Linked DNA regions of Homo sapiens: regions 1 and 2 are each reported to be linked to region 3. Evidence: microRNA targets listed by miRTarBase, many of them from high-throughput screens and not tested one by one. Region 3 holds a microRNA gene; each other region holds the end of a gene's coding sequence.

Evidence for each region. The annotated mature microRNA hsa-miR-613 reads AGGAAUGUUCCUUCUUUGCC and lies in region 3 at 5,142-5,161, shown strand. An mRNA with a match to its seed (bases 2 to 7 or 8) in the 3' UTR can be bound and repressed. Matches are read on the target gene's strand: a 7mer-m8 pairs with bases 2 to 8, a 7mer-A1 pairs with bases 2 to 7 and ends in A, and an 8mer does both.
Region 1: the mRNA of TIMP3 is a reported target of hsa-miR-613. Seed matches in the 3' UTR shown: 8mer at 2,259-2,266 and 7mer-A1 at 2,875-2,881.
Region 2: the mRNA of SMKR1 is a reported target of hsa-miR-613. Seed matches in the 3' UTR shown: 7mer-m8 at 3,272-3,278.

Annotation. Positions count from the first base shown.
Region 1 is chr22:32,858,259-32,868,408 of GRCh38, forward strand. It overlaps TIMP3 (TIMP metallopeptidase inhibitor 3), which reads left to right. Exons shown (of 5, transcript NM_000362.5): 5 at 922-4,783. The coding sequence ends at 1,119. SYN3 (synapsin III) reads right to left here. Exons shown (of 14, transcript NM_003490.4): 6 at 6,657-6,746. Among named protein-coding and RNA genes, the nearest start is that of TIMP3, 62 kb to the left of the region's middle.
Region 2 is chr7:129,509,578-129,520,046 of GRCh38, forward strand. SMKR1 (small lysine rich protein 1) reads left to right here. Exons shown (of 2, transcript NM_001195243.2): 2 at 2,670-3,341. The coding sequence ends at 2,864. Among named protein-coding and RNA genes, the nearest start is that of SMKR1, 12 kb to the left of the region's middle.
Region 3 is chr12:12,759,568-12,770,036 of GRCh38, forward strand. MIR613 (microRNA 613) reads left to right here and starts at 5,082; the gene lies at 5,082-5,176. It also overlaps a transcript of APOLD1 not described here.

The DNA.
Region 1 (10,150 bases), not on the chromosome of region 3:
AGGGCAGAGGGGCAGGTCTGAGCAGATATAGTAAGGATTGTTGCCCCAGGTGGGGCAGTGAGGAAGGCAGGGAAGGAAGAATGCCTTTCTGCTGTAATCGGCTGCCTCCATGATGACCACTTGGAAGCTGCTGGGGCATGAGGGCTCTTGAGTCCCTGGCCCCACCTGGCAGTTCAAGGCTGGAGGTATAGGATCCTGACACTGGCAGGTTCTCCCAAGTGGTTTCAAGTGGGCTCACCCTGGTAGCTGACTCATCGCTAACCCCACCCCAGGTAGGCAAATGGGCCCAGGACTGCAGAGACCAGATGCTACAGAAGGTCTCTCTTTACCAGGCCCATCCCCCTGACCCAAGTATAGGGCCAAGGTGCAGCCTGCCTGCTGTGGGAGGAAGTTGGGCCATTCTCTCACTTCATCTTCAAAACAGTCCTGTGTGGTTTTAATTACTATGATCTCCATTCTGCAGATGAGAGCTCAGAGAACTTAAGTAACTAGCCCTAGGTCCCACAGTTCACTGAATCTGGTTTCCAACCTAGGGCAGCTAGACTCCAAAGTTTATGCTCTAACCTTTCTAATTCCTCGATTCCCTAAAACAACTGAGATCTCCCACCTGAGACGAAAAAGTCCTCTCAGTAGTCTAATTCTGCTACTTACTGGCTGTGTGACCTGCAGCAAGTTACTTAACCTCTCAGAGCCTCCTAAAACTGTGATAAGAATTAAAGAGAATAATATCAAAGCACTTATCAGAATGTCTGTTAGACAGCAGATGCTCAAGCTAGTGCTATTTATATTATGATCACTGAGGGACTGATGTGGCTAGGCTTCCCATGCAGTGGCCCCAGGGTCTGAATCCAGGCTCGGTAGCCTCAGGCCTGGGCATACCATGGCAGAGTCCATCAACTGCTGCCTGTTATCTAATTGCAGATCAAGTCCTGCTACTACCTGCCTTGCTTTGTGACTTCCAAGAACGAGTGTCTCTGGACCGACATGCTCTCCAATTTCGGTTACCCTGGCTACCAGTCCAAACACTACGCCTGCATCCGGCAGAAGGGCGGCTACTGCAGCTGGTACCGAGGATGGGCCCCCCCGGATAAAAGCATCATCAATGCCACAGACCCCTGAGCGCCAGACCCTGCCCCACCTCACTTCCCTCCCTTCCCGCTGAGCTTCCCTTGGACACTAACTCTTCCCAGATGATGACAATGAAATTAGTGCCTGTTTTCTTGCAAATTTAGCACTTGGAACATTTAAAGAAAGGTCTATGCTGTCATATGGGGTTTATTGGGAACTATCCTCCTGGCCCCACCCTGCCCCTTCTTTTTGGTTTTGACATCATTCATTTCCACCTGGGAATTTCTGGTGCCATGCCAGAAAGAATGAGGAACCTGTATTCCTCTTCTTCGTGATAATATAATCTCTATTTTTTTAGGAAAACAAAAATGAAAAACTACTCCATTTGAGGATTGTAATTCCCACCCCTCTTGCTTCTTCCCCACCTCACCATCTCCCAGACCCTCTTCCCTTTGCCCTTCTCCTCCAATACATAAAGGACACAGACAAGGAACTTGCTGAAAGGCCAACCATTTCAGGATCAGTCAAAGGCAGCAAGCAGATAGACTCAAGGTGTGTGAAAGATGTTATACACCAGGAGCTGCCACTGCATGTCCCAACCAGACTGTGTCTGTCTGTGTCTGCATGTAAGAGTGAGGGAGGGAAGGAAGGAACTACAAGAGAGTCGGAGATGATGCAGCACACACACAATTCCCCAGCCCAGTGATGCTTGTGTTGACCAGATGTTCCTGAGTCTGGAGCAAGCACCCAGGCCAGAATAACAGAGCTTTCTTAGTTGGTGAAGACTTAAACATCTGCCTGAGGTCAGGAGGCAATTTGCCTGCCTTGTACAAAAGCTCAGGTGAAAGACTGAGATGAATGTCTTTCCTCTCCCTGCCTCCCACCAGACTTCCTCCTGGAAAACGCTTTGGTAGATTTGGCCAGGAGCTTTCTTTTATGTAAATTGGATAAATACACACACCATACACTATCCACAGATATAGCCAAGTAGATTTGGGTAGAGGATACTATTTCCAGAATAGTGTTTAGCTCACCTAGGGGGATATGTTTGTATACACATTTGCATATACCCACATGGGGACATAAGCTAATTTTTTTACAGGACACAGAATTCTGTTCAATGCTGTTAAATATGCCAATAGTTTAATCTCTTCTATTTTGTTGTCGTTGCTTGTTTGAAGAAAATCATGACATTCCAAGTTGACATTTTTTTTTCATTTTAATTAAAATTTGAAATTCTGAACACCGTCAGCACCCTCTCTTCCCTATCATGGGTCATCTGACCCCTGTCCGTCTCCTTGTCCCTGCTTCATGTTTGGGGGCCTTTCTTTAACTGCCTTCCTGGCTTAGCTCAGATGGCAGATGAGAGTGTAGTCAAGGGCCTGGGCACAGGAGGGAGAGCTGCAGAGTGTCCTGCCTGCCTTGGCTGGAGGGACACCTCTCCTGGGTGTGGAGACAGCTTGGTTCCCTTTCCCTAGCTCCCTGGTGGGTGAATGCCACCTCCTGAGATCCTCACCTCTTGGAATTAAAATTGTTGGTCACTGGGGAAAGCCTGAGTTTGCAACCAGTTGTAGGGTTTCTGTTGTGTTTTTTTTTTTTTTTTTGAAATAAAACTATAATATAAATTCTCCTATTAAATAAAATTATTTTAAGTTTTAGTGTCAAAAGTGAGATGCTGAGAGTAGGTGATAATGTATATTTTACAGAGTGGGGGTTGGCAGGATGGTGACATTGAACATGATTGCTCTCTGTCTCTTTTTTCAGCTTATGGGTATTTATCTTCTATTAGTATTTGTATCTTCAGTTCATTCCACTTTAGGAAACAGAGCTGCCAATTGAAACAGAAGAAGAAAAAAAAAAAAAGCAGCAGACAACACACTGTAGAGTCTTGCACACACACAAGTGCCCAGGCAAGGTGCTTGGCAGAACCGCAGAGTGGGAAGAGAGTACCGGCATCGGGTTTCCTTGGGATCAATTTCATTACCGTGTACCTTTCCCATTGTGGTCATGCCATTTGGCAGGGGGAGAATGGGAGGCTTGGCCTTCTTTGTGAGGCAGTGTGAGCAGAAGCTGATGCCAGCATGTCACTGGTTTTGAAGGGATGAGCCCAGACTTGATGTTTTGGGATTGTCCTTATTTTAACCTCAAGGTCTCGCATGGTGGGGCCCCTGACCAACCTACACAAGTTCCCTCCCACAAGTGGACATCAGTGTCTTCTCTGTGAGGCATCTGGCCATTCGCACTCCCTGGTGTGGTCAGCCTCTCTCACACAAGGAGGAACTTGGGTGAAGGCTGAGTGTGAGGCACCTGAAGTTTCCCTGCGGAGTCGATAAATTAGCAGAACCACATCCCCATCTGTTAGGCCTTGGTGAGGAGGCCCTGGGCAAAGAAGGGTCTTTCGCAAAGCGATGTCAGAGGGCGGTTTTGAGCTTTCTATAAGCTATAGCTTTGTTTATTTCACCCGTTCACTTACTGTATAATTTAAAATCATTTATGTAGCTGAGACACTTCTGTATTTCAATCATATCATGAACATTTTATTTTGCTAAATCTTGTGTCATGTGTAGGCTGTAATATGTGTACATTGTGTTTAAGAGAAAAATGAAACCCACATGCCGCCATTTTCCTGAATCAAATTCTGCAGTGGAATGGAGAGGAAAATACTTCTAGGCAAGCAGCTAGACTGGTGAATTGGGGGAAATAGAAGGAACTAGTAACTGAGACTCCTCCAGCCTCCTCCCTATTGGAATCCCAATGGCTCCTGGAGTAGGAAAAAAGTTTAAACTACATTCATGTTCTTGTTCTGTGTCACTCGGCCCTGGGTAGTCTACCATTTACTTCACCCCAAGTCCTGCTGCCCATCCAGTTGGGAAGCCATGATTTTCCTAAGAATCCAGGGCCATGGGAGATACAATTCCAAGTTCTCGCTTCCTCCTTTGGGCATCTCTTCTGCCTCCCAATCAAGGAAGCTCCATGCTCAGGCTCTCAGCTCTCGGGCCAGTGCTCTGCTCTGTCCAGGGTAGGTAATACTGGGAGACTCCTGTCTTTTACCCTCCCCTCGTTCCAGACCTGCCTCATGGTGGCAACATGGTTCTTGAACAATTAAAGAAACAAATGACTTTTTGGAATAGCCCTGTCTAGGGCAAACTGTGGCCCCCAGGAGACACTACCCTTCCATGCCCCAGACCTCTGTCTTGCATGTGACAATTGACAATCTGGACTACCCCAAGATGGCACCCAAGTGTTTGGCTTCTGGCTACCTAAGGTTAACATGTCACTAGAGTATTTTTATGAGAGACAAACATTATAAAAATCTGATGGCAAAAGCAAAACAAAATGGAAAGTAGGGGAGGTGGATGTGACAACAACTTCCAAATTGGCTCTTTGGAGGCGAGAGGAAGGGGAGAACTTGGAGAATAGTTTTTGCTTTGGGGGTAGAGGCTTCTTAGATTCTCCCAGCATCCGCCTTTCCCTTTAGCCAGTCTGCTGTCCTGAAACCCAGAAGTGATGGAGAGAAACCAACAAGAGATCTCGAACCCTGTCTAGAAGGAATGTATTTGTTGCTAAATTTCGTAGCACTGTTTACAGTTTTCCTCCATGTTATTTATGAATTTTATATTCCGTGAATGTATATTGTCTTGTAATGTTGCATAATGTTCACTTTTTATAGTGTGTCCTTTATTCTAAACAGTAAAGTGGTTTTATTTCTATCACACATCTGCTGTCTCTTGCCTTGTTGTGTTCTGACGCCACGGGGAGTTATGTATACACCAGCAGGCCTTGAAAGTCTATCCCCAGCTCCAGGCCTGGACACATCCCTCCCTCCATGCACCGCTATGGCCTGGCCCCACCCTGCTCCAGTCCTTTTCCCTTGCAGAAGGAATCTTAGGAGAGGTGCCCTGCCTTGACTTTGCTCCCTGATTCTATTGCTAGAGTCCTCCCTAGTTCTGCTGAATCTGGATGTATTAATATATCTGTACCTAATCACCTATTGGTGGTACAAGTACCCCCAGACTGGAGTCCTTACTCAGCCCTCCTTGTTTTCTTCCTAAGAATCCCAACCTGGTGGAGGTGGGGAGGGGCGGCCTGCAAACAGCAGTCCTTGATGTCAACTGCCTGCTTGAAATTCCAAGTATGGCTTGGCCTAGTTGGGAACACCAGGAACTCATGAGGTCTCACGACAGCTGGTGACCTTTTCCCAGAGCTTATAACAACCTCCTTTCAGAGTATACAGCAGGGCCTCTCACTGTCAATGGGCTGGGCTGGCTGCAGACCCCTCGCCTGACTTTCATCCCACCATTGACAACGTTCTAGGTTTTCACCCTTGTTTTAAAGCTACTCCTACTATATGCCAGGTACAGCACTTTATATACAGGATCTCATGAAATCCTGACTACTCGATGAGGTTGCTCCACAATCATCCACGGTTTTTACCTGAAGAAGTTGGGGCTCACAGAGATAAAGTCATTTTCCTGAGACCTAGTGTGTAGACAGAACTGGCATTCAAATTCAGGCTAGTTTGATAATGAACTCTGAATTTTCCCCACTGTAAGGATGCATACAGTAAGAAAAATCCAGGGTTTGGGGATATGCTGGGTTTCACATGTGCCCTTCTTATCTCAACCAGCATGTTCTGGATTCTGTGACTCTTGCCCGATCAGATACAGGGGAAAGATCATCAATAGAAATTCTGCTTGGTTAGAGTGATTACTCCTGAAATCTGCAGTCCTACCCATCAGTATCTCCAAACAGGACTGTCTAGCCCAGAAGCCTGAGCTTGGACTCTACAAACAGCCACAGTAAGTCCCCACCTGGGACTATGGTATACTCTATTCATTATTCTGTTCCCAAAGACGCATTCCCTGCAAGGCCAAGCGCAGGGTCACAGCCTTGAATTCCTTTGACCAGTTTACGAAGACCATCAACTATGCAAGCAGGCATGTTGCAGGCTCTTTCCTGCTGCTTAGAGCTCCTCCCCCCAACACTTTCTGGCTTCAGGTGGAGAACCCTTCACCTCATTCAGAAAGACATTCACCTCTTCCACCCAGGTATCCTCCAAATGGGAGGCTGTACCACATATCCTGAGCTAAGCCCTGCTTCCCAGAGGAGATCTCAGGTGCATTCAGAAATTGGAAAGTGAAGAGGACATGTAAGGAAACTGCCCTTCAACAACCAATGCAAATCAAATATTAATATTACTGCTTTTTATTAAAATATGAGTTGAAATCAGGTTCCACAAAAGGCTCAAGTAAAACAACATCCCACCTTGAAAACATCTTTTACCTTTATAATCAGCCTCTGGTTCTAACATGCCCCCAGAACGTGTCCCCTGATTTGCTGAAAATCTCCAAGTTCCAAGGAATGTGGTTCACCTTTGTTATTTGCCCTATTGCCTGAATTTCACCTGGAGAGACGACTTCCCTTAGGAAATCCAGGCACTCCCACAGGACACTGTGACTCCGCCTTAGAGTCTGCGTGGTCAGTGTACAACCCCTAGAGTCCACCTCCTCCATCCAAAGAGACCGAGGACAAGTCATCTGTATTCATTCCGCATCATGCAAAGAAACAGAGTAAAAAAGGGCACTCACCATTGGCTTATGGTTGGGGAAAAATGTTTGCTCCACAAGCGGGAACTTCTCAGGACCCAGGGAATGGAAGATCTTAATGAGCTGAGAGAACTAGGATAGAAGAGGAGAGAACATTGATCAACTATTGTCACCCAGTATAACAAAACCTCCCACTTGATCTGAGGCCTCAAGCATCTGACTGTTCTGAGCCGAGCTTCAGTAGGTGCTATCCTACCCTGCCTATAGGATAAAGACCAGATTCCTTGGCTGGACATTCATCCTCTCCATCATCTAGCCATATTAACCCCTCCATTTCTGCCCAAGACCTAGTAAGTAGGCAGAACACTGGGTTCAGCCCAACCATATTTAATGAGCACTTACTATAGCCTCAGCATTTCACACCATGTCCTTCTCCACCTGCTGATGTTCATGCCCTGCTCCTTGCCTGCCATACCTTCTTTCTAGAGAGGCAGCGCTGCATGGTAATTGATGGTGTTAGATGTGGATCCAGCCTTCCTGGGTTCAAATTCTTGCTTTGCCACTTACTAGCTGTATAACCTGGGAAGTCAATTCAGGTTTCTGAGCTTTCGTTTCTTCACTCGTAAACTGGAGATCCAACCTCATGGGATTGTTGTAAGGATACAGTGTGTCAGAGGCAGTGCTTTGTCCACAGCAGTGCTAAAATGCTAGGTGTTATATTAATAAATATTTTCTCTGCTGTTGCAACCCCTCTCATTTCCAACAGCTCAAGCCACATCCCTTCCCACTGCTCTCCTCCTGCTTCAACACTTGCTTGTTTTGCCAGATACTAGCTACTGTCTCCGGAGCTCAAAGGTGAGCTCTGTCGCTATGCTTTATTATTGGAGCAACAAGCTGAATATGGGGGCAAGGCCTGAAGGAAGACAGGCTGCAGGTGCATGGCTGTGACACTAATATCTTGCTGGAGGGAAGCATAGGGGGTGAAGGGACCTGGAAGGGGGACAGAGTAGGGAGTCAGGATGATCCCCTGGAGCAGACGACATAAGAGAAGGAGAAAGGGCCCTCCGGGTGTGCATTGAGACTAATGTATGCTGGAGACCCTCTGCAGCTGCCATGCTGTGGCGTCAGTTGCAGGTGATGATGAGAGACGAGGTGGAAGCATGATCCATCACAGACCACCAGCCTTAAAGGCCTGACCAGAAAGCTTAGAATTCACCCAGAAGGTGAAGGAGAGCTGCTGGTGGATATAAGCAGAGAAGAGCAAATCAGATTCCGAACAAGATAAAGGAATCAACTGGAATTTGTGGTCCCATGTGGATGCCCAGTGGTTAAAGGAGTGGCCAACCTGACTTGGAGGTCACTCAATACTAAGAGCCTGGACACTGAAAACAGAGTAACTAGGAACTTTCTGCATCCACCCAAGATTGGTCTGCAAACTCTTGGGGTATAGCCTTCAGATGCAGCACAACAGGGAGTCAACTTCGAGGGTTTAAGAGAACTCAGAAATATGGAAAACGATGTATGTGTGTGTGGGGTCCCTCATTTTGCAGACAAGGAAATTGGAGTCCAGAAAGGGAGAGTGATTCCGCAGGTAAGCACATGAGTTTTGAAGAGGCCTAGCTCTACCACTTTCTACTAGCTATGTGAGCCTCAGTTTCCTCATCTGTAAGATGGAGATATTAGCAACTCCTACTCATAAGGGTGCTAAGAATTAAACACAATATGCACGTTAAGGGCTCAGGATAGCACACGGCTAGTGCTGATGAGTTGTGGTTGCTACTATCGTGATAACTGTGATAAAAGGTGGGGAAGGGCTAACACCATCTAGGACCCTTTCCTAACAGTGGCACTCGAAAATCTTGGATGCCATTGGCCAAAAAGCCCAGTTAGGGCAGAATGAGAAGGAGACCAGGGCCATGACAATAGTGGTAAATTCTATCCATACCTATTAAATTAATGCATGTAGCCATTCAGTAAGTACTGAGTGTTCCAACTCTACATGGAACTTGTTCCAGGTATCTAAGGCAGTGAAAATTTTTACCACTTATTGAGTGTGTACTTTGTGCCAGCCACATTCTAAGCGTTTTCATCTATTAAATCATAACCCTACCAGGAAGGCGCTATTACTACCACCACTTTCCAAATAAGGAAGCTAAGTTCAGAGAGGTTAATGGGGTTGCTGCTCGAGTAACACAGCTCATAAGTGGAGAAGCCTGGACCTAGGAATCTGGCTTCAGAGCTCACACTCTCAACTACCACCCTACACCACCAGGTGATCACACAGAGAGATAGCAAAACACCACAGACCAGACAGCTATGAGCTTCATAGAGCACTTTCTACATACCCCAAGCCTCCACATTACCTATCCTCTTTCTGTCCTTGATCTTCCCCCTTGCCACTGATCATAGGACATATTGCATATTTGGCATAAGTATTAAAGCACCGCACATGCCCCTGCTCACTAGAATGTAAGATCCACAGGGCAGGGATTTTGGTCTGATTTGTTCACTGCTATGTTTCTAGGACTTACAACAGCACCTGGAACACAGTAAGTGCCCAAGAAGTATTTGCTACATGAACGAATAACTTCTAATCAGGGAGACAGATAATGCACAAATGAATGGATAAATTTATCATTCTAGGTGGAGATAAGTATCTAGGAAAAAAATAAAGCAGGGTAAGGGATTTGAGAGTACTTGAGCGAGTGGAGGAGTGGTATTTTTTCTTTGAGATGGAGTCTTGCTCTGTCACCAGGCTGGAGCGCAGTGGCGCAATCTCAGCTCTCTGCAACCTCCACCTCCTGGGTTCAAGCAATTCTCCTGCCTCAGACTCCCGAGTAGCTGGGACTACAGGTGCACGCCACCACGCCCAGCTAATTCTTGTGTTTTTAGTAGAGACGGGGTTTCACCATGTTGGCCAGCATGGTCTCGATCTCTTGATCTCGTGATACACCCGCCTCGGCCTCCCAAAGTGCTGGGATTACAGGCGTGAGCCACCGTGTCTGGCGAGGAGTGGTATTTTAAGAAGTCTTTCTTACAGGTAACATTTGGATGGAAACTCAAATAAATCAAATGAATGACTGAAACTAAGGAATAAAAGAAGAGAAATTAAATGTTGGGTGTTGGAGAGAGAGATGGCTTAAATTGTGGCCTCACCACTCACTGAGCAAGTTCCTTAAGTGGCCTGAAGCTGAGCTTCCATCTCTGTAAAATGAAGGGTTGACACTCACTTCACACGAGAGCGACAGTTTGAGTGCCAGGTAGCATAGTTTTCTGGGACATAGTAAGTGCTCAATAAATGGAGTCTGCTGTTAACAATAATGATAGAATGTTCATAAAACAATATGGTGCATCTTTATGACTAATATTATAACATAACACCATATCATAATGTTATATAATAACATGTTTTGTTATTATATATTATTAATAGCATATATTGTCACTGTATTATATATTATATATTACAAAGATCAATTATTACATATATGTAATATCATATATCATATATTACATGTAACATGTATAATATATAA
Region 2 (10,469 bases), not on the chromosome of region 3:
GTCACCAGGCTGGAGTGCAGTGGCGTGATCTCGACTCACTGCAACCTCCGTCTTCCGGGTTCAAGAGATTTTCCTGCCTCAGCCTCCTAAGTAGCTGGGATTACAGGTGCACGCCACCACACCTGGCTAATTTTTGTATTTTTAGTAGAGACGGGGTTTCACCATGTTGGCCAGGCTGATCTCGAACTCCTGACCTTGTGATCTGCCCGCCTCAGCCTCCCAAAGTGCTGGGATTACAGGCGTGAGCCAGCGCGCCCGGCCTATTTTAGTAGTTGTAACACATGAACTATGTTCCTCTTTGTCTAGCTTGGGACATTTTTTGACCGCAATGCTGTGAATAGGACATCTATTTTATATAAATGCTTACCCCTTGCAGGTGTCCTTGAACGTTTATACCTTCCTCTCCTCTCCCTTGCCTACAAGAGACATTTTTTAATAATATACTTCCATTGGTTATTTTCTGTATGTGTGGGTCAGAGGACATAGAGAAGTTCAACTCAGTTTTGTGCAGTTCTAGCAAATATAAATGTAAAACCAAAAACTATAACCCTTCTAGAAGAAAATATAGAAGATGCTTGTTACTTGGGTTAGGCAAAGATTTCTTGGGTATGACAAAAGCACAATCCATGAAAAACAGGTTGACAAGCTCAAAATGTAATAGTTTATTTCCAGATTAGGATGGTATCCATTTATTTTCCCAGAGAACACTGACCTTATGGGGTAGTCATGGAAAGAGAATAGACACCGAGCCTGGTGGACACTGGTTTCTGCATGCTGGGTAGCCTAACTGAGCCCCTACATTTCCATTTTGAAGGCAGGAATAATACATAGAAATACAGCTCTGAGTGTTGGTGGTGTTAAAGATGATGGCACAGGCCGGGCACAGTGGCTCAAGCCTGTAATCCCAGCACTTTGGGAGGCCAAGATGGGAAGCTCGTTTGAGACCAGGAGTTTAAGACCAGCCTAGGCAACATAGCGAGACTGTCTCTACCAAAAATAAATTAGCCAGAAATGGTGGCTAATGCCTGTGGTCCCAGCTACTTGGGCGGCTGAGGTGAGAGGATCGCTTGAGCCTGGAAGGTCAGGGTTACAGTAAGCTGAGTTTGTGCCACTGCACTCCAGCCTGGGTGACACAGCAAGACCCTGTCTCCAAAAAAAAGGAAGGTGATGACAGTCATCATTTATTGAGTATTTGTCTCACATCAGACATGGTGCTAAGTGTCTTTTTTTTTTTGCGGGGAGGCGGGGGGAGGCAGAGTCTCGCTCTGTCCCCCAGGCTGGAATGCAGTGGCGTGATCTCGGCTCACTGCAACCTCTGGCTCCTGGGTTCAGGCGATTCTTCTACCTCAGCCTCCTGAGCAGCTGGGATTACAGGCGCTTGCCACCATGCCCAGCTAGTTTTTGTATTTTTAGTAGAGACGGGGTTTCACCTTATTGGCCAGGCTGGTCTCGAACTTCCTGACCTCAGGTGATCCACCCGCCTTGGCCTTCCCAAGTGCTGGGATTACAGGCGTGAGCCACCGCGCCCAGCCTATGCTAAGTATCTTATATTTGTATCTCACTTAAACCTCATGACTGCTTAATGAGGTAGAGATTACTTGTAAAACAAGTGCCAACATACATATTTGCATCCTGATTATCAAACTTGTTTTAAATTTAATGTGTATTATGAAAATTTCCAAACATAAATGAAAATAAAATCATAAACTAAATCCTCATATAGCCATTTCTCAGATTCAGAAATAATTAGGATTTTGCCACATTTGCTTTATCTGTTTTTTCTGGGTCGGGGGCAGCGGGGGAGCTGAGTGTTTTAAAGCAAACCTCAGGCCTTCTTTCATTTCATCCCTACAGATTTCAGTGTGCACTTCAGAAACGTGTGGACTTCTTCTTCTGTGATTTGCTGCCATTGTCAGACCTAATAGAATTACTAATAATTCCTTGACATGATCAGATTTCCCTGATTAACTCAAAGACATCTTTTTGCAGCTTGTTCAAATAAGAATGCAAACAAGGGCCACAGCTTGCATTACGTTGGGTCTCTTTTAATCAGGGTGCTTAATAAACATTTGTCAAATTAGATTGCGTGTGACTTTCAGAAATTATTATAATTCTGGGTCAGAATTAAACTTTGCTCTCAAAAGGCAGTTCTAGTTGCATTAATTGTTTTCGTTTGCCAAAGGGGGTTTGTCATTTAGAGAAGACAGGACGATGCAAACTGTTTGTTGTGGCTGCTATTTTGACTTATTTCCTTTTAGGAATTTTTTTTCCTTGTTCAATACAGAAATACTGAAAATGATACCAAGTTTATAAAAACTAACTCGGCCTGGCAAGATGGCTCACACCTGTAATCCCAGCACTTTGGGAGTCTGAGGTGGGCAGATCACTTGAGGTCAGGAGTTTGTGAGCAGCCTACCCAACATGGTGAAACCCTGTCTCTACTAAAAGTACAAAAATTAGCCGGGAGTGATGGGGCACACCTTGTAATCCCAGCTACTTGGGAGGCCGAGGCAGGAGGATCACTTGAGCACGGGAGGTGGAGGTTGTAGTGAGCCAAGAGCATGTCACTACACTCCAGCCTGGGTGTTGGGAGTGAAACCCTGTCTCAAAAAAAACAAAAACCAAAAAACTAACTTCCCTCCTCCCATATTTATATTTGTCTTTGAAAGCCAGCTAAAGGGAAAAAAGGAAAAGGCCAGGGCAAGTCTCATGGGAAGAAACAGAAGAAACCAGAAGTGGACATTCTCAGCCCCGCGGCCATGCTGAACCTCTACTACATCGCCCACAACGTCGCTGACTGCCTGCATCTGCGAGGCTTCCATTGGCCGGGTGCTCCCAAAGGAAAGAAAGGGAGAAGCAAGTGACAGCATTTCACAACACATCTCTGTTACAGACAACAGGACCTGGGGAAGAGAAGTCAGGATAACACAACTGTTGCCAGCAACATAGACTTTACTCCAGACGACTTGAGATGCAAATTAAGTGTGCTTTTCTGTGATGGTGGAAGATCAGGAAATGCACCTTACTTCCTCTGTTATGCCAGATATGGTTAGCCACTTTGGTTTTTTAGGAGCTATAGGATGGGAAAAGCCTGAGTAATTCCTACACAGTGTGCTGAAATTAATAGAACTTTCAGAAATTATTATAATTCTGGGTCAGGATTAAACTTTGCTCTCAGAAGGCAGTTCTAGTTGCATTAATTGTTTTCTTTTGCCAAAGAGCGTTTGTCATTTAGAGAAGACACGGCAAGAAACACTGGGTTTCCTTAGGAACATTCCTCTCTTGGGCACCATTTCCTTTTTTTTTTTTAATGGAAAATAATAAATACTTTGTTTCTATAATTTTCTTCTCAGCAGTCTGACTCTGTTTGATTTGAATTAGCCACAGGCTCCACGGATGCTAAGATGGTCACGAATGCTCTGACCCTGCCAGTCTTGCAAGCAGATGGTGAGAAGTGGCTGACAGTGTGAAATGGCTGGATGCAGGGCAAAGGGGGCAAATCTGCCCATCCCTTTCTTTTTTCTTTTAAGACGGAGTCTCACTCTGTTGCCCAGGCTGGAGTGCAGTGGCGAAATCTCAGTTCACTGCAACCTCTGCCTCCCGGTTTCAAGCGATTCTCCTGCCTCAGGCTCCCAAGTAGCTGGGATTATAGGCGCACGCCACCAGCCCAGGCTAATTTTTTTATTTTTAGTAGAGATGGGGTTTCACCGTGTTGGCCAGGCTGGTCTTAAACTCCTGACCTCAGGTGATCTGCCCGCCTCGGTCTCCCAAAGTGATGGGATTATAGGCGTGAGCCACTGCACCCGCCTCAGTCTCCCAAAGTGCTGGGATTACAGGCATGAGCCACTGCACCTGCCTCAGCCTCCTAAAGTGTTTTATTACAGGTGAAAGCCATCGCACCTGGCCATCCCTCTTTTTTCCATATTTCACCTGACTCTTCTCCCTCCTTCCCTCCACACTCTATTTCGTCCCACCTTCTGCCTACTTTGTTAAAACTTGGCTGGCCCCGAGTTATAGAATTGGTGCCAGGCACTTACTTGCCCTGGGCATTCGGCTGATATTCTAGATCTCCCTAGCCCTGTAAGGAGACGCCTAAGAGGTGAAACTATAGTTCTTTCTCCTCGGCCCAGAGGCCTAAATTCTCCAGATGTGAAAGCCAGCGTTTTGCAAGTGCGGACGCCGTCTTTGACTCCCTGAGCACTCCATCCTTGCCTCCTGCTCTGTCTTCCTGGCTCTTCCTGCCCCTCCTCAGCCCCTGCACCGTTGTCTCCATTCATGGTTCTGAGCCCAAAGCTGACACACTGTAGGCAGCACCTCCGGGGATGTTCTAGTTTGTTGGAATTATAATTATGCTCCAGGTGGCCTTGTGAGGATCGCAAGGATTCATGAGGTTTGCTAAGGGAAGCTGCAACTCAGGACTCAGGATTTCATACACATCAGAGAAAAAAAGGAAGCTCCATGAATCTCTGTGCTAGAGAAGTGGGGTGCCCATGACCCACGTGAGCCTGTTGGGAACAATACTGTTTACCTGCACCATCTGTGCAGTTTCCATAGAAGCCCTTGGCCAGTTGCCAGAGGAGCCCTCACTTGGGTGAATCTGAAGGGAGGTCTCCTCTGCTGTGTTTTCTGGTTTTGGAGACGGGGAGCACCTTCCCACCCTGTTAAGGACTGCTGAACTCACTAACTCCAGTTCAGCAGTTCTCACACTTGAGTGTGCCTCTCGGTCACCTAGAACACTTGGCCAAGTGCAGATTGCTGGGCCCTACCCTCGCAGGAAGGATGGGGCTCAGGGATTTGCGTTTCTGGTACGCTGGCAGGTTATGCTGGTGCTGCCCAGCCACACAGGTAGAGAGCTGCCGCTCCAGTTAATGCTGCCTACCCAGAAGCTAAAAGGCTTAGTGGAATCCGAACCTGTGGGATGTGTAATGTCCTTTCCTGCCTCACCTGGGTTCAGGAGCGTGTATTTGAGTAGCTGGTTATTGGAAGTTTGGGGAGAAGGCAGCTGCAAAGCTTCCTTTTGATCCCTGACTGCCCGCACCTGCAAGGCTTCCATTGGCCGGGTGCTCCCAAGGGAAAGGGAGAAGCAAGTGACAGCATTTCACAACACGTCTCTGTTACAGAGAACAGGGCTTGGGGAAGAAAAGTCAGGATAACACAGCTATTGCCAGCAGCACAGACTTTACTCCAGACGACTTGAAATGCTGCTCATCTGTAGCACAGATACAGGCATTTACAGGCTAACAAGGTCTGAAAGTGGTCATGCTCTTTTCTTTTGAGATGATGAAATGATGAGCCAGGACTGTGAGTGCTGGGATGGGGGAAGCACTGGTCTGATTGGCCGGGGCACCGTGACTCAAGGCTCACCCCAGTTTAGCAGACTGCCTGAGGCTGTCTCAGTATTGTGCTCACTGGACCCCTGGGGTTCTGAGAGAAGCCATAAGAAATTTTGGGTTCTAATAGCCATGCTCTAGTGTTACCACATATACATAAAGTCATAAACATTACACACACGCTATATAAAGGTTATGATGCATTTTACTTTTTGAGAATTTTTTTTTTATTTTGGTGAAACGCTAAAAACTTTTTTCAACAAAAGCTATTTCAATACATTAATTGAGCATCTACTGTGCTTGGCACAAAGACAGCAAGACAGAATCCCTACTGATAAGATTTGGCTGTGTCCCCGGCCAAATCTCATATTGAATTGTAGCTCCTGTAATTTCCACGTGTTGTGGGAGGGTTTTGTGGGAGATAATTGAATCACGGCGGCAGTTTTCCCCATACTGTTCTCATGGTAGTGAATAAGTCTCACGAGATCTGATGGTTTTATAAGGGGTTTCCCCTTTCACTTGGCTCTCATTCTGTTTTGTCTGCTGCTGTGGCCGTGGGAGATGTGCCTTTCACCTTCCACTGTGATTGTGAGGCCTCCCCAGCCACGTGGAACTGTGAGTCTGTTAAACCTCTTTTTCTTTATAAGTTACCTAGTCTTGGGTGTGTCTTTATCAGCAGCATGAGAACAGACAAATACACTTACCCTCAAGGAGCTTCCAGTCTGGTCAAGAAGGCTACTACCCAGATTAACAGAGGGCAACTAAGTTTCTATTTCAACTTTGATAAAGTACATTCATGATGCAATTTATGAAGGTGATTAAGAGGAGGGTGGGATTAAGACCTCTGGAGGACATCCGGAGGATATCTGATGATAAAATATATACTTGAACCCTGCTGTTTTTACTTCCCCTAAACTCAAATTGGCAAGAATCCTGATTCTTGCTGCTTTTAAAGATTCAAAGAGGAGCTTGTGAAAGGCACAGTGTATTAGGTCATTTTGCATTGCTATAAAGAAATACCTGAGGTTGGCCGGGAGCGGTGGCTCACGCCTGTAATCCCAGCACTTTGGGAGGCCAAGGCGGGCGGGTCACAAGGTCAGGAGGTAGAGACCATCCTGGCTAACATGGTGAAACCCCGTCTCTACTAAAAATACAAAAATTAGCCGGGCGTGGTGGTGGGCGCCTGTAATCCCAGCTACTTGGGAGGCTGAGGCAGGAGAATGGCGTGAACCTGGGAGGCAGAGCATGCAGTGAGCCAAGATGGCGCCACTGCACTCCAGCCTTGGTGACAGAGCGAGAGTCTATCTCAAAAAAAAAAAAAAAAAAAGAAATACCTGAGGCCAAGGCAGGCGGATCACTTGAAGCCAGGAGTTTGAGACCAGCCTGGCCAACTTGGTGAAACCCCATCTCTACCAAAAATACAAAAATTAGCCAGGCATGGTGGTGTGTGTCTGTAGTCCCAGCTACTCAAGAGGCTGAGTCAGGAGAATCGCTTGAACCAGGGAGGGAGAGGTTGCAGTGAGATGAGATCGCACCACTGCACTCCAGCCTGGGCAACAGAGTAAGACTCTGTCTCAAAAACAAAACAAAACAAAAAACAACCTGAGCCTGGGTAATTGATAAAGAAAAGAGGTTTAATTGGCTCACAGTTCTGCAGGCTGTACAAGCATGACACCAGCATCTGCTGGGCTTCTGGGGAGGCCTTCAGGAGCTTTTACTTTTGGCAAAAGGGTGCAGGCACACCACATGCCTAGAGCAGGAGCAAAAGAGAGAGGAGTGTGGGGAGGTGCCACATACTTTTTTTTTTTTTTTTTTTTTTGAGAGGAAGTCTCGCTCTGTCGCCCAGGCTGGAGTGCAGTGGCGCCATCTCGGCTCACTGCAAGCTCTGCCTCCCGGGTTCACGCCATTCTCCTGCCTCAGCCTCCCGAGTAGCTGGGACTACAGGCGCCCGCCACCACGCCCGGCTAATGTTTTTGCATTTTTAGTAGAGACGGGGTTTCACCGTGTTAGCCAGGATGGTCTCGATCTCCTGACCTCGTGATCCGCCCACCTCAGCCTCCCAAAGTGCTGCGATTACAGGCGTGAGCCACCGCGCCCAGCCAGTGCCACATACTTTTAAACAACTAGATCTGGAAAGAACTCACTATCTCGAGAACAGCACCAATCCATGCAGGATCCATCCCCATGACCCAAACACCTCCACCAGGCCGCACCTCCAACACTGGGGATTACAATTCCACATGAGATTTGGGCAGGGACAAATATAAGCAGTGATAGGTACGTCCACATACAGGTCATGAGGGCTACCTGGAGGAGGCAACAGCTGAAGTGAAGGCCTTGCTGTGAAGCTATGGGGGCTTTTTATGAGGAAGGCTCTATGCAAGGGTGAGGATGGATATGGGGCTTGATGGTTAGAAAGTGGGAGAGAAGGGAACGGTGACTGCAGGAATAGAAAAAATGTCCACAGAGGAGGAAGGAGGACATGGCAGTCACATGTGGATGGGGAATTTTCCATTACAAATCTGATGATAGAATCCAAAGAGACAGTGACAAGTGTCAGCGAGGGTGGGAAAAATTGCAACCCTCATGCGTTGCTGGTGGGGATATAAAATGGAGCCGCTGTGGAAGACAGTTTGGCAGCCACTCAGAACTAAGTAGAGTTACCATACAGCTCAGCAATTCTACTCCCAGGTACACGCCCAGAGAACTGAACACACGGTCACACAACATCTTGTACATAAGCCAAGCACAGTGGTGCTCGCCTATAGTCCCAGCTACTCAGGAGGCTGAGGCCAGAGGGTATCTTGAACCCAGGAGTTCGAGGCCAGCCTGAATAACACAGCAAGACCCTGTCTCAAAGATACCAAAAAAACAAAGCAAAACTTACATACAAATGTTTATTACAGCATTCTTCATAATAGCCAAAAAGTGAAAACAACCCAAATGCCCATCAACAACAGATAAAATGGGGTCTCTCCATACAATGGAATATTATTTAAACATAAAAAGGAATGAAATGGTGATATGTGCTACACCGCATAGATGAACCTTGAAAACACCGTGCTAAGTGAAAGACGCCAGATACAGAGGCCACATATTGTGTGATTCCATTTAGATGAAATACTCACACAGACAAAGCCCTAGAGACAGGACGTGGATTAGTGAGTGCCAGGGGGAAATGAGAAGTAGTGGCTGCTAATGGGTCTTTAACCTTTGGGTCCTTTTTTGCGTGGTAAACATGTTCTGGAATTCAATAGTAGTGACGGTTGCATAACCTTGTGACTATACTAAAAACCACTAAGCTGTACATTTAAAAGGGTGAATTTGATGGTATGTGAATCATGTCTCAAGCTGATGACAACTAGAAAAGGTCCAACAAGACTGAGAGAGAAAGAGGAGGCAAGTCCCAGATACCAGAGCAGGTGGCCCCAACAGAGACGAGGCCACGGAAGAGGGAACAGGGCCCGGTCAGACCCCTGCAGCCAGATCCTGGGACAGAGAAACTTGGGAGCTGTGGCAGGAGGGACCACAGACCCAAGGTGTCTGCAGACCTGAGGGAGGACTGACGATGTTCCTGCCAGGGCTGAACTCATCTTAAAAGAAAAAAAAAAAAAAAGGCCGGGCACGGTGGCTCACACCTGTAATCTCAGCACTTTGGGGGACTGAGGTGGGCAAATCACTTGAGGTCAGGAGTTTGAGTCCAGCCTAGCCAACGTGGTGAAACCCCATCTCTACTAAAAATACAAAAATGATCCAAGTGTGGTGGTGGGCGTCTGTAATCCTAGCTGCTCGAGAGGCTGAGACAGGAGAATTGCTTGAACCCGGAAGGTAGAGGTTGTGGTGAGCTGGGATCATGCCACTGCACTCCAGCCTGGGTGACCGAGTGAGACTCCATCTCAAAAAAAAAAAGGACTACAATAAATTCCATCTCTAACAACTTTTTTTTGAGTCAAGGTATCACTCTGTCACCCAGGCTGGAATGCAGTGGTGTGATCATGGCTCACTGTAGCCTTGACCTCCCAGGCTCAAGCAGACTTCCCACTTCAGCCTCTGAGTAGCTGGGACTATAGGCATGTACCACCACGCCTGGCTAATTTTGTTTATTATTATTTTTTTTAGAGAGACGAGCTCTCACTATGATGCCCAGGCTGGTCTTGAACTCCTGGGCTTGAGCGATCCTCCTGCCTCAGGCTCCCAAAATGCTGGGATCATAGGCATGAGCTACCACACCCAGGCCTCCAACAACTTCTTATATTTTGTTTTATTCTTTTAGTTTATCCCTTATTTATTTATTTAATTCATTAGTAATAAAGCCAATCAAACTTTTTAAAATGTGCCATTTTATCCTGGAATACATCAGTATCCTTGATGATGATGATGATGATTATTATTATTATTATTAGTTTTGAGACAGGGTCTCGCTCTGTCACCCAGGCTGCAGTCCAGGGGCGTGATCTCAGCTCACCACAACCTCTGCCTCCCAGGTTCAGGCGATTCTCCTGCCTCAGCCTCCTGAGTAGCTGGGACCACAGGCGCGTGCCACCATGCCCGGCTAATTTTTTGTATTTTTAGCACAGACGGGATTTCACCGTGTTAGCCAGGATGGTCTTGATCTCCTGACCTCATGATCTGCCCCCTTCGGCCTCCCAAAGTGCTAGGATTACAGGTGTGAGCCACTGCACCTGGCCTCTTTGATATTTTAAACAGGTAGCTTTGCACTCTAACTCCAGGCATGTTCCTGCTGTGATTGTTACTCTGTGGCTGTCTGTCAAGGGCCCACCTTGCTGGGAGAGATGTGGTTTCCACTCTTGCTACACCCTTCTCCTCTCCCCCAATACCCTCCAGCGACCTCTGTTTTGACAAGTCTGGGCATGGCCCTGTCTCCCACCTCCATTCTGCTCCCATTCTGTCCTCTCTTTTTGTTCTCGTTTTCCTTGTTTGCCATATTCCCTGAATACAAAATCACCAGGGCTTCACTGGCTTCATGGTAAATCCCTCTGCAGGTCTCAACTCCAAGGTCACTTCCTCGGCAACATCTTCTCATGGTCAGGCCCACTGTCTTAGTCCCTTCCCGCTGCTATGACATAATACCTGGGCCTGGATAACGGATCAAAACAGAAATTTACTTCTCACAGTTCT
Region 3 (10,469 bases):
TGTTGCTGCTGCCGGCATTTATCGCACTTCCTACAAGGACAGTTTCACAAAATTTATTTGAGATATTACTCTTCATTCATTTAGCCTTATTGAAGTGTGTTGAAGGGACTGACCCCGTCTGCAGCTCGGGCTGCCTTGACGTCAGTATATCCAGTTACCCTGTTGGGAGTGACTAGTTTATAAATGGGCATGGCCAGAGCCAACGGGAGATGAGAAGACATTCACTGGGACTTCTAGGAAAGACATTAGGATAATTGGCCTTCCATTTGGAGGAAGATGCTAAATTTCTACTTCTTACCATTGGCAAATATTAATAGAAGTGAAATTAAAACCCTAGAAGAGTCTATGATTATTAGAAGAGGCAGAAAGGCAAAAAGCCATATTGATAGATTGATAATTTGATTACATGATGTCGGAACTATACAACACCATGAAAAAAATTAAGACAAGCAACTGAATAGAAGTAGACATGTTATATACATAACAAAAAACTTGTGTCCAGCTCATGCCTGTCATCCCAGCACTTTTGGAAGCCAAGGCAGGCGGATCACTTGAGCCTAGGAGTTCGAGACCAGCCTGGGCAACATGACGAAACCCCCTCTTTACAAATGATACAAAAATTAACCACCACACCCACAGTCCCAGTTACTCAGGAGGCTGAGATGGGAGGATCACTTGAGCCTGGGAGGCAGAGGCTGCAGTGAGCCATGATCGTGCCACTGTACTCCAGCCTGGGTGACACAGTGAGACCCGGTCTCACAACAAACAAACAAACAAACAAAAACCTTGGCCGGGTGCAGTGGCTCACGCCTGTAATCCCAGCAGTTTGGGAGGCCGAAGTGGGCAGATCACCTGAGGGCAGGAGTTCGAGACCAGCCTGCCCAACATGTCAAAACCCCGTCTTTACTAAAAATACAAAAAATTAGCCGGGCGTGGTTCTGGGCGCCTATAATCCCAGCTACTTGGGAGGCTGAGGCAGGAGAATCACTTGAAACTGGGAGGCAGAGGTTGCAGTGAGCCGAGATAGTGCCATTGCACTCCAGCCTGGGTGACAAAAGCGAAACTCTGTCTCAAAAAAAAAAAAAAAACAACCAACAACCAAACAACCAAACAAACAAAACCCTTATGTCCATACCACAGTAAACCTTCTATATGTGGATAAGAAAAAAGGCAAATCAATAGAAATATGTGCAAAATATATGAATAGATCATTTACATATAAGGATCTGAAAGGGCAACCCCCTTCCCCAACATATGAAAGTTACTCTACCTCTCTAATAGTCAGTAAAGCACATTTTAAAACTTGGTACATAGTAGGATATACCAAAGTTTAACCATTCCCCTACTGGTGGAAAGTTAGATCATTTAAAACTTATTATTACATACAATGCTCATTGAAGATGTGTCTTGCCTCTTTGGAACATATTCGTGCTTTTGAGATGTTAAACCTTATAACCTAAACCTAGAATGTGATAGCAAACATCTTGGTGTCTGCGTCCTGAATAGAAGTTATATATTATGTGAACATACACTAAAATTTAGCATCAGAGTGTTCTTTGAATTGTATTTTTAATCATGTGCTTAATCTAATACACTTGGGAACTACTGGAACTTTTGCTGGTCAGATTAGTTCAAACAGTTAGAAATTGTTCTCTTTCCTTGAAATAAAGCTGATTGAAGGATTATGTTGTCTGAATAGCTGTAGGATTCAGAAACTCCTTTATAAAGACTTACTTTATTTTTAGGTTTAAAAATATCCATGATTTCTTTTGGATTAATGGTCTAAACATGCTTATTTGACTAAAGCCTTACTTTTTTATTTATCATGGCTATAGCTTGTTTGTTGTTCATTAGTTGTAAGTGTGTTCCAGGGAGAGGAAATTGTTTAATCTCTACTCAGTAGGGAAAGAAAATATTTATCAAATTCAAAATATGTATGCCTTTTGTTCAAGCAATTTCAATTTGAGGAGTCTTCCCTACAGAAATACTCATAAGCATATACACACACACATACTCACACACAAGGATGTTCACTGCACCATTGTTTCTAATATATAATTCAGTTGAAAATATGATAAATGTCTATCAACAAAGGAATGAATTAGCAAATCATGACCTGTCCCTAAAATGAGTGACAGCCACATGTATCACCTTGGAAAAATGTCTGTATATGAGAGGGTGCTGGAAGGGAACAGAACTCACCCCCAAATGGTTTGAATGAACATATATATATACATGAACATATACATATATGTATATGTATAGAGAGAGAGAGAGAGAGAGAGAGAGAGAGAGTCTTGCTCTGTCACCCAGGCCTAAGTGCAGTGGTGTGATCATAGCTCACTGCAACCTTCAACTCCTGAGTTTAAGCAATCCTATTGACCCAGCCTCCCAAGTAGCTGGGACTACAGGTGTGCACCACCACCATGCCTGGCTAATTTTTTGAATTTCTTTTTGTAGAGGTGGGATCTTGCTATGTTGCCCAGGCTGCAAATGAAGACATTTTTAAGGAAGAGTTTACTTACAGAGGTTAGGTGCCAAGCAAACAAAGAAGGGATGGTGAAGTGCCTAGAGACTAGCAATGGTGGAAAGTGATGCCCATTCCTAAGGCCTCAGGTACAAAGGAGAGGGCATAGCACAGTAGGAGCCCAGTGAAATTTGGAACCATGGAGGCAGGGCCACCCAGGGAGTTATAGCTAAGGATGGAGACAGCCACTGCAAAAGACAGAGCTGATGCAGGTAGGAAACAAGGAAGGAATACCCTGACTTTTTAAAATTAATTAATTTATTTTTTATTTTTTTCCGAGATGGAGTCTTGCTCTGCCACTCAGAGCTAGAATGCAATGGCACTATCTCGGCTCACTGCAACCTCTGCCTCCCAGGTTCAAGCAATTCTCCTGCCTCAGCCTCTCGAGGAGCTGGGATTATAGACGCGCACCACCACACCCAGCTAATTTTTGTATTTTTAGTAGAGATGGGGTTTCACCATGTTAGCTAGGCTGGTCTTGAACTCCTGACCTCGTGATCCATCCACCTCAGCCTCCCAAAGTACTGGGATTACAGGTGTGAGCCACCACGCCCAGCCTTACCCTGACTTTTTTCCTTTTATTCTCTGATATTTTGCTGCAGAGACCTCTGCAGTGACCTTTGATTGGCTGAACCCACTCGGAAACATTTGGCATGGGAGCCTGAGTAAAGTGGTCCACTGGCCAGAGAGAAAGGACAAATATGGCCCATGAAGATAGAGAATGACTAGCATGATGTTTTGAGGGTATTTTTGGTTTTGAAATCAATTAGCCTGGGCGCCGTAGCTCACACCTGTAACCCCAGCACTTTGGGAGGCTGAGGCAAGAGGATTTCTTGATCTCAGGAGTTGAAGACCAGCCTGGGCAACATAGTAAGACCCTGTCTCTAAAAGAAAAATTTTAAAAGCCGGGTGTAGTAGTCCCAGCTACTCCAGAGGCTGAGATGGGAGGATTGCTTGAGCCTGAGAAGCAGAGGCTGCAGTGAGTCATGATTTCACTCTAGTCTGGGTGACAGAGCAAGACCCTGTCTCAAGAAAAAAAATTATTTTTAATTGACAATAAAAGTTGTATATACTCATTGTGCACAGCATGATGTTTAGATATATGTGTGCATTGTGAGATGGCTAAATCAAGCTAATTAACATATTCATTACCTCACATTTTTTTTTGTATGCGGCGAGAACATTTAAAAACTACCCTCTTAACAATTCCTAAGTACAATTATCCCCCCATATCCAAGAAAAATTGGTTCCGGGACACCCTGTGAATTCCAAAATTTGGGGAATGTTCAAGTACCTTATTAAAAAAAGTGTAGTATTTGTGTATAACCTATGCACATCTTCCAATATATAGTTGGCTTTTGTTATCTGTGGGTTCTGCATCTGTGGATTCAACCAACCAGAAATTGAAAATATTGTGTGTGGGGGGGGGGAAAACAATACAACAATAAAAAATAATACAAATAAAAAGCAATGAAGTATAATAACTATGTAGCATTTGCATTCTATCAGGTATTATAAGTAATCTGGAGATGATTTAAAGGATAGGGAGGATGTACATAGGTTATATGCAAACGCTATACCATTTTATATGGGACTTTAGCATCCTCGCATTTCTGTATCTACAGGGGGTCCTGGAACCAATCCCCCACTTATATGAGGGGGATGTCTATACTTTAAATCATCTCTAGATTACCTATAATACCTTATATAATATGTGTTATATAAATGGTTGTTATACTATCTTTTTAAGTTTGTATTATTTTTAAGTTTTTTTTCCCAAATATTTTTGATATGAGATTGGTAGAATCATGGATGGAAAACCTGAGGATCCAGAGGACTGACTATATATAGCACATTATTTTTATTTATTTATTTATTTATTTATTGAGATGGAGTTTCACTCTGTCACCCAGGCTGGAGTGCAGTGGTGTGATCTCGGCTCACTGCAACCTCTGCCTCCCGGGTTCAAACAGTTCTCATGCCTCAGCCTCCCAAGTAGCTGGGATTGCAGGTGCCTGCCACCATGTCCGGCTAATTTTTGTATTTTTAGTAGTGACAGGGTTTCGCCATGTTGGGCAGGGTAGTCTTGAACTCCTGGCCTCAGGTGATCCACCCATCTCGGCCTCCCAAAGTGCTGGGATTACAGGCATGAGCCACCGTGTCTGGCTACAGTACATTATTAACTATAGTTACCATGTTGTACAAAAGATCTGTTGAATGTATTCCCCCTAAATGAAATTTTATATGCTTTGACCAATATCTCCCCAATTCTCCCTGATGATGTTTATGTTATGTTTTTTAAGTGGAAAAAAAGTTGCATAGCAATATATAATATGCTATTTTTGTAAAAGAAAACCACAACCACATATGTGAAATGCACATGGTTGTATAAACATCAGCATTATGTAAGAACACATAGCAAACTATAAACCTCAGTATTACCTCTAGAGGGTGAAAACAGATGGAGAAGGATTTATTTCTAACTTTCTATATTTTAATTTTTATAATATATTTTCTATTTCTACTAGGTGTGGGCTTTATTGGTTGATTTCTCGGTGAGTGCGTTTCCAAGTGTGAAGGGACCCTTCCTGTAGTGTCTTATATACAATACAGTAGGAATGTTCCTTCTTTGCCACTCATACACCTTTATGTGCATCTCACATGGTGTTCTTCCCCAGGTGGATGTGATTCTCCATGCCAGTGAAGAGTAAGGAAGGCCACAGCATGGTATGGGGATAGAATAAACTCTGCTGGGCTAACAAATAAACCCTGAACTCTCAATGGCTTAATGCAATAAAGATTTGTTTCTTATTCATGCTGATGTTCCTGGCCTGAGAGTTCACCAGAGCAGCTCTTCTCTAAGCAGCAAATTCAGGGATCAGGGCTTCTCCCATCCTGTGCATCTGCCATCTTGGAACCTTCATTTCCAGCCATGTAGAGGAAGAGAGAAGGAGCCTGAGAGACTGGGAGAGGAGTTTTATGCAAGGGAGTGCTGGGAAATGTAGTCTTCCTGGTTCTGCAGGCTGTATAAGAGGCAAAGACCAGCATCTGCTTCTGATGAAGGGCTCAGGAAGCCTCCAATCATGATGGAAGGTGAAGAGGAACCAGAGAGGAAGGAATGAAAGTTTCATTTTAAAAATTAGAGATGAGGTCTTGCTATGTTGCCCAGGCTGGACTCGAACTCCTGGGGTCAAGTGATCCTCCCACCCCAGCCTCCTGAGTAGCTGGAACTACAGTCTCATATCACCACACCCGGCTCAATATATTTTTATATTATAGAAATTTGTTATAAGAATTATGCATTTTTTGTGATTAAATGAATAAAGATAAACTATATTTTGCATAAAAAGAAAGCACTGTTACACTTAAGGCGAAGACAAAGGTAAGAAAACCCCTAAATGGTTATTAAACATTTAATTCACTTAAGGGCACTGCAGAGAGGAAACACTTTTAGAAATCTATGTTAATTCTGTTAACATTAAAGCCAAAGTGTAGGCTGGGCATGGTGGCTCAGGCCTGTAATCCCAGCACTTTGGGAGGCCAAGGTGGGAGGATTGCTTGAGCCCAGGAATTCAAGACCAGCCTGGGCAACATGGTGAAACCCCATCTCTACAAAAAATCAAAAATTAGCTGGGTGTGGTGGCACAAACCTATAGTCCCAGCTTCTCAGGAGGCTGAGGTATTAGGATCTCTTGAGCCTGGTAGGTTGAGGCTGCAGTGAGCCACGAGTGCACCACTGTCGTCCAGTCTGAGCAACAGAGTGAGGTGCTGTCTCAAAAACACCCAAAAAACAACAAGAACAAAATGTCAAAGTCAAAGAGTAGATCTTCTGTGCTCTAGTGTTGGTTAGGATCCTCTGTTGCAAAGATCAGAAATCAAGTCACTCAAGGAATAAAAGGGGAGTTGAAAAAATAGGAATATATGAATGGCTCATAAAATGGAATGATGGCAGGAAATAAAAGTTAAGACTCTCTGTTTGCCTCTCAGGACCTTATCTCTTAATTTTCTCCAGTAAACAAAACAAACTTTCTCTGCTCTTGGGGGAATATAATGGGAATAATATGGCTGCTTCACAGATCCTGAGTTCCATATTTCAGTTCCAGTCATTGAGAAGACTGCCTCAACTCTCTTTAGGTCCATATTCCAAAATCTTGAAAGAATTTGATTGGCAAATTTGGTTTGGATGTCTACCTTTAGTCCAATTAGCTATAGTCAGTGGGCAGGATCATGTAATATAGTACCAAGATACTGGAATATTTTAAATGGAGATAAAGAGATGTTGTCAGGTTAAGGTGGGGGCCATAAGTTCCCAAGCTGCCTACTACAGTTGCACAAAGGACAAAGAATATTATAGATTGATGAGCTAAAAATCACTTTTGCATTGCCCCACAGCTAAAAAATTTAAAAAGAGATTTCTGAGAGAGCCATAAAAAGGCAATAGTAAAACACTGATATAAAATCAGCTGGGGCCAGACAGGGTGACTGACACCTGTAATCTCAGCACTTTGAGAGGCTGAGGTTATCTGCCTGGATCACCTAAGGTCAGGAGTTTGAGACCAGCCTGGCCAACATGGCGAAACCCTGACCCTACTAAAAATACAAAAATTAGCTGAGTGTGGTGGCACGTGCCTGTAATCCCAATTACTCAGGAGGCTGAGGCAGGAGAATCGCTTGAACCCGGGAGGTGGAGGTTGCAGTGAGCCAAGAGCACACTCCAACCTGGGTGACAGAGTGAAACTATGTCTCAAAAACAAAAAACAACAAAACAAACTAAAACAACAAAACAAAACAAATAAACAGAAAAAAAGAATTAGCTGGTAAATCAGCTGGCATATACTATCAGAATAATAAATAAGAGTTGGCCCCCTGGGCTGGGTGCAGTGGCTCATGCCTGTAATCTCAGCAGTTTGGGAGGCCAAGGTGGGTGGATCACCGGAGGTCAGGAGTTCGAGACCAGCCTAACAAATATGGTGAAACCTCATCTCTATTAAAAATACAAAAATCAGCCGGGTGTGGTGGTGCATGCCTATAGTCCCAGCTACTCAGGAGGCTGAGGCAGGAGAATTGCTTGAATTTGGGAGGTGGAGGTTGCAGTGTGCCAAGACCACGCCAGTGCACTCCAGCTTGGGTGACAGAGCAAGATTCCGTCTCCACAAAATAAATAAGAGTTGGCCCTCTGTATTTGTGAGTTCTGCATTTGTGAATTAAACCAACCACTGATTGGAGTTATTCAGAAAAATTAAAAACAACCGTACAATAATAAAAATAATACACATTAAAAAATTGGCCAGGTGCGGTGGCTCACACCTGTAATCCCAGCACTTTGGGAGGCCGAGGTGGGTGGGTCACTTGAGGTCAAGAGGTTGAAAGTAGCCTGGCCAATGGGGCAAAACCCATCTCTACTAAAAATAGAAAAATTAGATGGGTGTGGGGGCCCGCGCCTATAATTTCAGCTACTCGTGAAGCTGAAGCATGAGAATTGCTTGAACCCGGGAGGCGGAGGTTGCAGTGAGATCGTGCCACTGCACTCCAGCCTGGGCTACAGAGGGAGACTATGTCTCAAAACAAAACAAAAACAAAAACAAAACTAGTATAACAACTATTTACATAGCACTTACATTGTATTAGGTATTATATGTAATTTATAGATGATTTAAAGTACATGAAAGGAGGTGAGTAGGTTATACGCAAATCCTATGCCTTTTTTTTTTGACGGAGTCTCACTCTGTCACTCGGGCTGGAGTGTAGTGGTGTGATCTCGGCTCACTGAAACCTCCGCCTCCTGGGTTCAAGTGATTCTTCTGCCTCAGCCTCCCGAGTAGCTGGGACTACAGGCACGTGCCACCATGACTGGCTAATTTTTTTATTTTTAGTAGAGACGGGGGTTTCACCATATTGGTCAGGCTGGTCTTGAACTCCTGACCTCGGGATCTGCCTGCCTCGGCATCCCAAAGTGCTGGGATTACAGGTGTAAGCCACCGTGCCCGGCCTACTATGCAATTTTATACAAGGATCTTGAACTTCTGTGGATTTTGGTATCTGTGGGGAGTCCTCAAACCAAACTCCCATGGATGCTGAGGGACAACTGTACAAATATTGAACAATTGAAAAGGTCACAGATAACTAGATGTAAAAAATAGTTACTGGCTTGAAAAAAGGTAAGAATACCTGATAATTGCACCACATTGTGTAGGTCTCACAGGGTTTCCATATTCCCTTTCCAATATAATAAATAAAACCTTGTAAAAGCAATTGAGGCTGAGTGCAGTGGCTCATGCCTGTAATCCCAGCACTTTGGGAGGCTGAGGCAGGAAGATCATTTGAGTCCAGGAGTTCGAGACCAGACTGGGAAACCTAGGGAGTCCCAATCTCTACAGAAAATTAAAAACAAAACAAAACAAAACAAAAAAACCAACCAGGTGTCATGCACCTGTGGAGTCCCAGCTACTCAGGAGGTTGAGTTGGAAAGATTGCTTGAGACCAGGAATTCAAGGTGGCAGTAAGCGCTAATCACGCCACTGCACTCCAGCCTGGGCAACACAGCAAGACCTCATCTCTTAAATTAAAAAAAAAAAAAAGCAATTGAGTCTCAATAAGTCAAGTCACTTGCTTGAAGTCACACACAAACCACAGACTTAGGACTCAAACTCCTCGTTTTCACTTTATGTGCAGAGGCCTAACTTATAGAAAATGCCTCCTACCTTTTTCAAAGGTAGTTTACTTTTTTTTTTTTAGCATTGAAAGTAAAGGCAGAAATGACTTTTAAAGTGCTACATTTTCAGGGAAAAAAAGTGGATTAGGAACATTAGTTTCCATTCTGGCATGTAAGGAGCTCAGAAGTCACTACTCCTGGCTGGGCACCGTAGCTCATGCCTGCAATCCCAGCACTTTGGGAGGCTGAGGCAAAAGGATTACTTGAGCCCAGGAGTTCAAGACCAGCTGGAGCAACGTGGCAAAACCCCATCTTTACCAACTATACAAAAATTAGCCAGTCGTGGTGGCACATGCCTGTAGTCCCAGTTACTTGGGAGGCTGAGGTGGAAGGATCACTTGAGCCTAGGCAATTAAGGCTGCAGTGGGCCATGATTATACCACTGCACTACAGCCTGGGCAACAGAGCAAGACCTCCAGCTAAAAAAAAAAAAAAAAAAAAAAAAGTCACCACTCCATCTTAGCAAGTAAAAAGCTGAGTAAACTGAAAAATCAACAGCTCTTCTTAGATCCATAAGAGATGGGAGGTCATAGAGTAAACCCCAAATTGGAAACACAGGTGAATGCAGATAATCACAACTTAATTACTGGAGCAGAAATCTTCATGGGAATCAGTGCTGGAGTGGGAAAACCTGAACTGTAATTGACAAATTGCTGGAGGCTTGGTGTGGACAAGTCTGTGAGATAAAAACTTTATTGGGAGGCTCCCACACTTTTGTAGTTTTACCTCCAGGGGCTCTACTAGGTTCTCACAGTGAATTTTGCAAACGATCCTCTCATGCTTCCAACAAGGGGAGAGGAAAAGGAACCATCTTGAAATGCCCTAGAGCATTCTGTTCTTAAGAACAAGGTCTTCCCTCAGGAGAAATTACTTAACTGGAGCCTAACCTGCTGGGGTTTTATAACAGCCTAACTGATCTGGGGGAAGGGAAATACCCAACTCCAGCCTAGTCTAGCTATGTTGTCCCACCTAAGGAGAGGGGGAGACTGAGAAGCACCTGTGAAGTTCACAGTCCAGAGACATAGGCTCACTAAAAGACTGAGACCTAATTATCGGACTGTAGAATGCTTCCTTTCCCTCCACACCTTGCCACCACATTACTAAAGTCCTATTTACAGTAGTTTCTTTAGCCCAAAACATCATGCCTGGCTATCAAGAAAAAATTACAAAGTATACTAAAAGGCAAAAAAACATAGTTTGAAGAGACAAAGCAAGCATCAGAACCAGATG